2 linked regions of the Homo sapiens genome follow. The protein of the gene in region 1 purifies or fractionates together with the protein of each later gene. This does not show direct contact. Each region holds a gene or a part of one and is shown in the gene's direction. Other genes may lie near its edges.

What was found. Proteins that work in one complex are often made in the same cells at the same time.
Region 2: the proteins of PNOC (region 1) and NUP155 purify together in Homo sapiens (co-immunoprecipitation; 2 studies listed by BioGRID and IntAct, with this or other methods). This does not show direct contact.

What each region holds. Positions count from the first base shown.
Region 1 is NC_000008.11:28,327,214-28,330,967, forward strand, and holds part of PNOC (prepronociceptin isoform 1 preproprotein), read left to right. Parts: intron 1-1,921; 5' UTR 1,922-1,944; coding exon 1,945-2,070; intron 2,071-3,754.
Region 2 is NC_000005.10:37,301,483-37,305,236, reverse strand, and holds part of NUP155 (nuclear pore complex protein Nup155), read left to right. Parts: intron 1-26; coding exon 27-180; intron 181-393; coding exon 394-498; intron 499-1,822; coding exon 1,823-1,977; intron 1,978-2,328; coding exon 2,329-2,458; intron 2,459-3,686; coding exon 3,687-3,754.

The sequences.
Region 1 (3,754 bases):
GGTTCTACAGGGACCCAAAATGATACAGTACAGGGAAGCATCTTTCAGATTTAGAAGCCTTGATCAAAAGATAAGTTTCAAGGAGAAACAGTGAAAACTGCACACCTTTCAGGCAATCCTACATAAGATTGCAAACCACTGATCTAATCAACCAATCCTTGGAGCTACTATCTTGGAATAGTTTCTTTGTTCGGTTTTAAATAGCAAGTTCCACATGCCAGGGCCTGTGCTTGGCCTGGAATGCCAAGGTGAATAACATGGCCCTTTGCTCGGGAAGCCAACTGTCTTAGTCTGTCCAGGCTACTGTAACAAAAGAGCGTATACTGGGTGGCTTATAAACAACATAAAATTCTTTTCTTTTTTTTTTTTTTGAGATGGAGTCTTGCTCTGTCACCCAAGCTGGAGTGCAGTGGCGTGATCTTGGACCACTGCAACCTCCGCCTCCTGGGTTCAAGCAATTTCTGGCTAATTTTTGTATTTTTAGTAGAGATGGGGTTTCACCATGTTGGCCAGGCTAGTCTTGAACTCCTGACCTCTAGTGATCCACCTGCCTCAGCCTCCCAAAGTGCTGGGATTACAGGCATGAGCCACTCTGCCCTGCCAACAACAGAAACAACTTTTTCACAGTCCTGGAGGCTGGGAAGTTTGAGATCAAGGTGCCTGCAGATTCAGTGTCTGGTGAAGGTCTATTCCTGGCTCTTAGATTTTGCCTTCTTGCTGTGTCCTCAAGTGGTGGAAGGGACTAGCTAGCTCTCTGGGGCCTCTTTTATAAGGGCACTAATCCCATTCATAAGGGCTCTAGTCTTGTGATCTCATCATCTCCCAAAGGTTCCATCTCTCTCTCTCTTTTTTTTTTTTTTTTTTTTTTTTTTGAGACAGAGTCTCACTCTGTCAACCAGGCTGGTGTGCAATGGCACAATCTCGGCTCACTGCAACCTCCACCTCCCAGGTTCAAGCAATACTCTCGCCTCAGCCTCCCAAGTAGCTAGGATTACAAGTGTGTACCACCACACCCGGATATATATATATATTTGTATTTTTAGTAAAGACAGGGTTTTGCCATGATGTTGGCCAGGCTGGTCTTGAACTCCTGACCTCTAGTGATCCACCTGCCCTGGCCTCCCAAAGTTCTGGGATTACAGGCATGAGCCACTGTGCCTGGCCCAAAGATCCCATCTCTTAATATCATCACGTTGGAGGTTAGGATTTCAACATAGGAATTTTAGGGAGACAGAGATAGACCATAGCACTAGCTCACATCTAACAGGGATAAGAGGCAAGTACCTGGAAGAGAGAATTCGGGGTATGGGGGGTTGGGGGCATTCCTGGCTGCAGCAGGGAAGGCCAGGAGGATGAAAGGAAGCATTTGAGTCATTAATAAATGTCATATTTTACTCATCTTACTTTTGCACAGCACTTTGCAAAACTCCCCTTACAGATCTCATTTCATCTTCACAATAGGCCTGTGATAAGGCAGGTGCCACTGTTCCCCTTTTATGGGCTATGAAAACTGAGGCTCAAAGTGGTTGATTTAATGTCACATGCTGGTAAACTGCAAAGCGATGCCTTTAGCTCCCAAGAAAGCTATCTCTGCCACCACACAGCTGCTCCCAAAAGTGCCTATGAGGTGTCGAGGCCAGCCAGGTGGCAGGAATCACAGGGGTGTCCTGCCACCCAGGACTAACCCAGGAACCCAGACACACTAACAAGCCTCTACATGAACACTGAGCCTAGGTGATAGGCAGGGTCGCCTATGGCCTTGACAATTTACACCCCTGCAAAGTGAATCACAGGCCCCTAGTGCCATCCTGCCAGAGACAGCAGAGAAGTGTCTTTCCTGCATTCTCTGGGTTAGGTCTCTGGCCCTGAGCAGCCCTCCGAGAATGGCTGTACTCATTGCCATGCTTCCTGTATGTTCCAGCACCTGCTTCCTGCTCCTGCACCATGAAAGTCCTGCTTTGTGACCTGCTGCTGCTCAGTCTCTTCTCCAGTGTGTTCAGCAGTTGTCAGAGGGACTGTCTCACATGCCAGGAGAAGCTCCACCCAGCCCTGGACAGCTTCGACCTGGAGGTAGGTCTCCAAGGCAAGGCAGAGAGGCTGTCCTCCTCCCTGACTACCTCCTCCCTCCCTACTCCAGAGCAGACTCTGAGTGAGAAGCCAAGGCCTCTCCCACAGCTCACAGGACTTGCTCAGCATTACATGGCCCATAGGAAACAGATCAGACAGGAGCTGCTCTTCTGACCCAGAACCTTACGATCTTTCCACCTTACCACCTGCAGGAAGAGCCCTGCCTGTGATGCCAGGTCATTCCCAGGATTAAAATAATGTTACTCATTTCAGAGAGTTTGGCAAATTCAGAAAAGTATAAAACAAGAGAAATTTAAATCCTCCTTAATTACACCAGTCAGAGAAAGAATCCTACTTTTTTTCACTTACTATATTATACCAGGATAAATTTCTCATGTTATTATTTCTTTCCATGAGTATAGTCTACAGTTGGCCCTTGGTATCTACTGGTTTCACATTCAAGGATTCAACTAACCATGGATAGAAAATATTCAGAAAAAAATAAAAAATACTAATACATCAATGAAAAATAATACAAATAAAGCAATACAGCATAACAACTACTTAAATAGCATTTACATTATATTAAGTATTATAAGTAATCCAGAGATGATTTAAAGTGTACAGGAGGATGTGCATAGCCATTTTATTGATCATTTTTATTTTTATTTATTCATTTTTTTTGAGACAGAGTCTCACTCTGTCACTCAGGCTGGAATGCAGTGGTGCGATCTCAGTTCACTGCAACATCCACCTCGCAGGTTCAAGCAATTCTTCTGCCTCAGCCTCCCAAGTAGCTGGGATTACAGACGCCCACCACCACGCCCCGCTATTTTTTATATTTTTAGTAGAGACGGGTTTCACCACATTGGCCAGGCTGGTCTTGAACCCCTGACCTCAAGTGATCCACCCACCTCATCCTCCCAAAGTGCTGGGATTACAGGCATGAGCCACCGTGCCCCTCCGCATAGCCATTTTATATAAGGGACTTGAGCATCTGCAGATTTAGTATCCTGAAACCAATCCCCTGTGGATACAGAAGGACCGTGTAATTTGTTTAACCACTGAACAGGTATGTGCCCTTTATTTTATTTTATTTTATTTTATTTTATTTTATTTTTTTTTTTTTTTTGAGACGGAGTCTTGCTCTGTCGCCCAGGCTGGAGTGCAGTGGCGCAACCTCGGCTCACTGCAAGCTCTGCCTCCTGGGTTCATGCCATTCTCCTGCCTCAGCCTCCCGAGTAGCTGGGACTAAGGTGCCCACCACCACACCCGGCTACTTTTTTTTTTTTTTTTTTGTATTTTTAGTAGAGATGGGGTTTCACCGTGTTAGGATGGTCTCAATCTCATGACCTCATGATCCACCCGCCTCAGCCTCCCAAAGTGCTGGGATTTACAGGCGTGAGCCACCACGCCTGGCCTGTGCTCTTTATTTTTGATATTGCAGATAACTCAACAGTGAACCCCTTAGTACCAAAATGCTCTCTTATATTTTAAATTTCCAACTTAAGGTGCAAATCCAGTATTAACTTTTTCTTCATTAAATAAACTGCTTTGTCAACTATCTACATTTCAGTCCAGATAGTTACTCCTCTCCTATTAAATCCAGTATAGCTCAATTGTTTTTTACTTTATAGTCAAATAACTTCCTTCAAAAGATGCCATCTTTTAAACCCCTTAACCTTTC
Region 2 (3,754 bases), on another chromosome or scaffold:
ATTGTTCCTTTTCCATTTTCTTTCAGATTAAACAGTTACAAATGCATTACAGACACACTTCAAGAACTGGTAAATCAAAGTAAGGCCGCTCCTCAGTCTCCCAGTGTACCCAAAAAACCTGGTCCTCCAGTGTTGTCATCTGATCCAAATATGCTGAGTAATGAAGAAGCAGGACATCATGTAAGGGACATAGTATATTTTCATTCTGAGAATACACTGTTTAGAAGTTCTCCATGGTAATGGTAGCACAGTCATCTTGGGGAAAGGTGGTAGTTCTTAGAAGTTATCATGTAAGGATTCTTGATTTCTTACTGGAGTTTATAGGGCTAAAGGGTTGTGATGCCCAGAAACAGAGCCTTTAACTGCTAATTTTTACTATTTTCTTTATTTTAGTTTGAACAAATGCTTAAATTGTCACAGCGATCCAAGGATGAGCTCTTTAGTATTGCCCTTTATAATTGGCTAATACAAGTCGACCTTGCAGATAAGCTGCTACAGGTAAATCTTTTTTTATTGCAGTTGTGTTAATTATTCTTAAGGAGCATAACTCAATGATTTAAGCACATATATAGATGTAAAAAATTCAGTTTCTCATCCCATGCCTGCTATTAGATGTTAGTATAAAGCTGAGTAATGCAGTATCTTTTCCTAAGGGGCAAAGTAGGCTACTGCTCCAATTTTCTTGTTAATTCGAAGCTGATTGGGATAGTTTGTATTGCGGGGTAGAAATCACTGGATTATGAATATGAGTCCTGTAGGTCATCTTATCTTAACTCTGCTGTTAAGTCACTGTGACTTCAGATATGTCCTTTTACCTACCCTAAGTTTCAGTGTTCCTCAATCTGTTTAATGAATACATAGCATTTGATAATTTCAATAATGCCTTTGAGCTCAATGTCTAGGAATCAATAGCTGTGTTATCAAAGTTTATTTAAAAATTTGTAATTTTATAGTAAATTTCCCTTTTTTTTTTTTTTTTTTTTTTTTGAGATGGAGTCTGGCTCTGTTGCCCAGGCTGGAGTGCAGTGGCATGATCTCAGCTCACTGCAACCTCCGCCTCCCGGGTTCCAGCAATCCTCCTGCTTCAGCCTCCCAAGTAGCTGGGATTACAGGCACCCGCCACCACGCACAGCTAATTTTTATATCTTTTTAGTAGAGACGGGGTTTTACCATGTTGGCCAGGCTGGTCTCAAACTCCTGAGCTCAGGTGATCTGCCCACCTCAGCTTCCCGAAGTGCTGGGATTACAGGCATGAACCACTGTGCCCGGCCAAATTTCCTTTTCTTTTTTGAGGCAGGGTCTCAATCTGTAGCTTAGGCTGAAGTGCAGTGCAATGGCACGATAATGGCTCACTGTAGCCTTGACCTCCCTAGGCTCAGGTGATCCTCACACCTAACCCTCCTGAGTAACTAGAACTATAGGCCCGCACCACCACACCCAGCTAATTTTTTTGTAGAGACGAGGTTTTGCCATATATTGCCCAGGCTGGTCTCAAACTCCTGAGCTCACATGATCTGCCCACCTCGGCCTCCCAAAGTGCGAGGATTACAGACATGAGTCGCCATGCCCAGCCTACTAAATTATTGTTATCAACCTAATAGAATTGTTTTGGAAACTCTTATGCTAACTGTGGTAAAACAAAAATTGTTTATAATAAGAAAATTTGCCCTCTCTTTTATCTGTTAGTATTGGATTATAATTTTGCTTGTTTTCATAAAACAAGGCAAAGTTGTAGTTGACTTAAAAATACTATATTTTCCTTATCAGGAACATTATCTGTAGGTGGTTAGAAAATTTTTCTGAATAACTATATAATTTCTAGGTTGCTTCTCCATTTCTGGAGCCACATCTAGTCCGAATGGCCAAAGTTGATCAAAACAGAGTTCGTTATATGGATTTACTCTGGCGGTATTACGAGAAGAACAGAAGTTTCAGTAATGCTGCTCGTGTACTGTCCAGACTGGCTGACATGCATAGGTATGGCATAATATTCTTATTGTGAAGAATGATTCAAAACTGAGCTATATGTACTTACATTCAGTTTTCTTTAATTTTAGAAGAATCTAAGTTTTAATATACTGACCTAAATTTTTTAAATAGGATGTTACTTTTTAGTCATAAATGTATTTCTTTATGTGTTGTCTAAAATTGTGGATCTCTCTTATGAGAAATCTAAAATAGATTTTTTTTTAAATCTAATGATTTTTTTTCAAGTTTCAGATGGCTTTTTATGTGTGTTTGGTATGAAACAGTACATACTAATTGACGTATTTGTATCATCAATCCTTAAGAAATTGTGTAACTAAAAATAAGCGTTTTCCCTTCTAGCACAGAAATTTCACTTCAGCAGCGACTAGAGTACATTGCTCGAGCCATTCTTAGTGCCAAAAGTTCCACTGCCATTTCATCAATAGCTGCCGATGGTGAATTTCTTCATGAATTAGAAGAAAAAATGGAGGTAAGTGCTAAAGATCTTAAGCTGTGTCCACATTGAGTACTAGCCACATAGTTATTCCACATTCCATTCTTCCCTTGGTAAGTAATAGGTCTGAGAAGTCATTATTATTCTAGTTGCTTTTGTCTGTTTATATTTATTTTTATGTTTAGATATAAATCTTAAAGATTTTTAAGGATGCACTTGGGTCATAAAAACATTGCTATAATTTAGAAGTTTTCTCTTTGGCACTTCGAAAGGTTTTTCCCAGCTGGGTGCAGTGGCTCACGCCTGTAATCCCAGCACTTTGGGAGGCCGAGGCAGCCAGATCATGAGGTCAGAAGTTCGAGACCAGCCTGGCCAATATGGCGAAACCTTGTCTCTACTTAAAAAAATACAAGAATTAGCCGGGGGTGGTGGCACACACCTGTAGTCCCAGCTACTTGGGAGACTGAGGCAGGAGAATTGCTTGAACCCAGGAAGCGGAGGTTGCAGTGAGCTGAGATTGCACCACTGCATTCCAGCCTGGGAGACAGACTGAGACTCTGTCTCAAAAAATAATAATAATAAAAAATAAATGTTTTTCCCAACTGTTTCAACAGCAAGTGGATTACATCACATTCACCATTTATTTTGGAAGCAAATAAGTAGATGTATGAAGTAGAGTAGGCTAAAATTCCCTAACTAAGAGAATCAAAAACATACCATCGTCCAAATACAAAAGTTTGTTTCTTATTCACAAAAATCCAAGGTGAGTCTTCCTGATTGGCAGCTGGCTTTCCTCCGTGTGGTTGATTTAGGAACCCAAGTTCTATTTTCTGGCACTACCATTCCCTAGGGCCTCTGCTTTATCTTCAGCAGAGGGTGGAAGGAAAAGAAAGAACACATTCACTGTCTTAAAAACTATAGCCCTGACATGACACACTACTTCTACTCACATTCCTTTGAAGAGAACTTGGTTGTATGGCCATACCTCCCCTACAGAGGAGGCTGAGCTGTATAGTCTAACCATTTGGCTACAGTCTTGGAAGGTATAAGTATTGGGCAGCAAGGAGTCTGCCACAGTATACTTCCTGTGAAATCTATTATGTTTAGTTGATGTCTGTTATGATAATATTAGCCTATTATGATAGAAATCTTCATTTATACATTATTTTAGCAAACTTAAAGTCAGATAGTAGGATCCGTTCTTTCAAACGTATGTTGATTTATCATAAATAAATTAAGACATCCTGTTTTCTGCCCAAACTAGGTTGCTAGGATCCAACTTCAGATACAGGAGACACTACAAAGGCAGTATTCCCATCATTCTTCTGTACA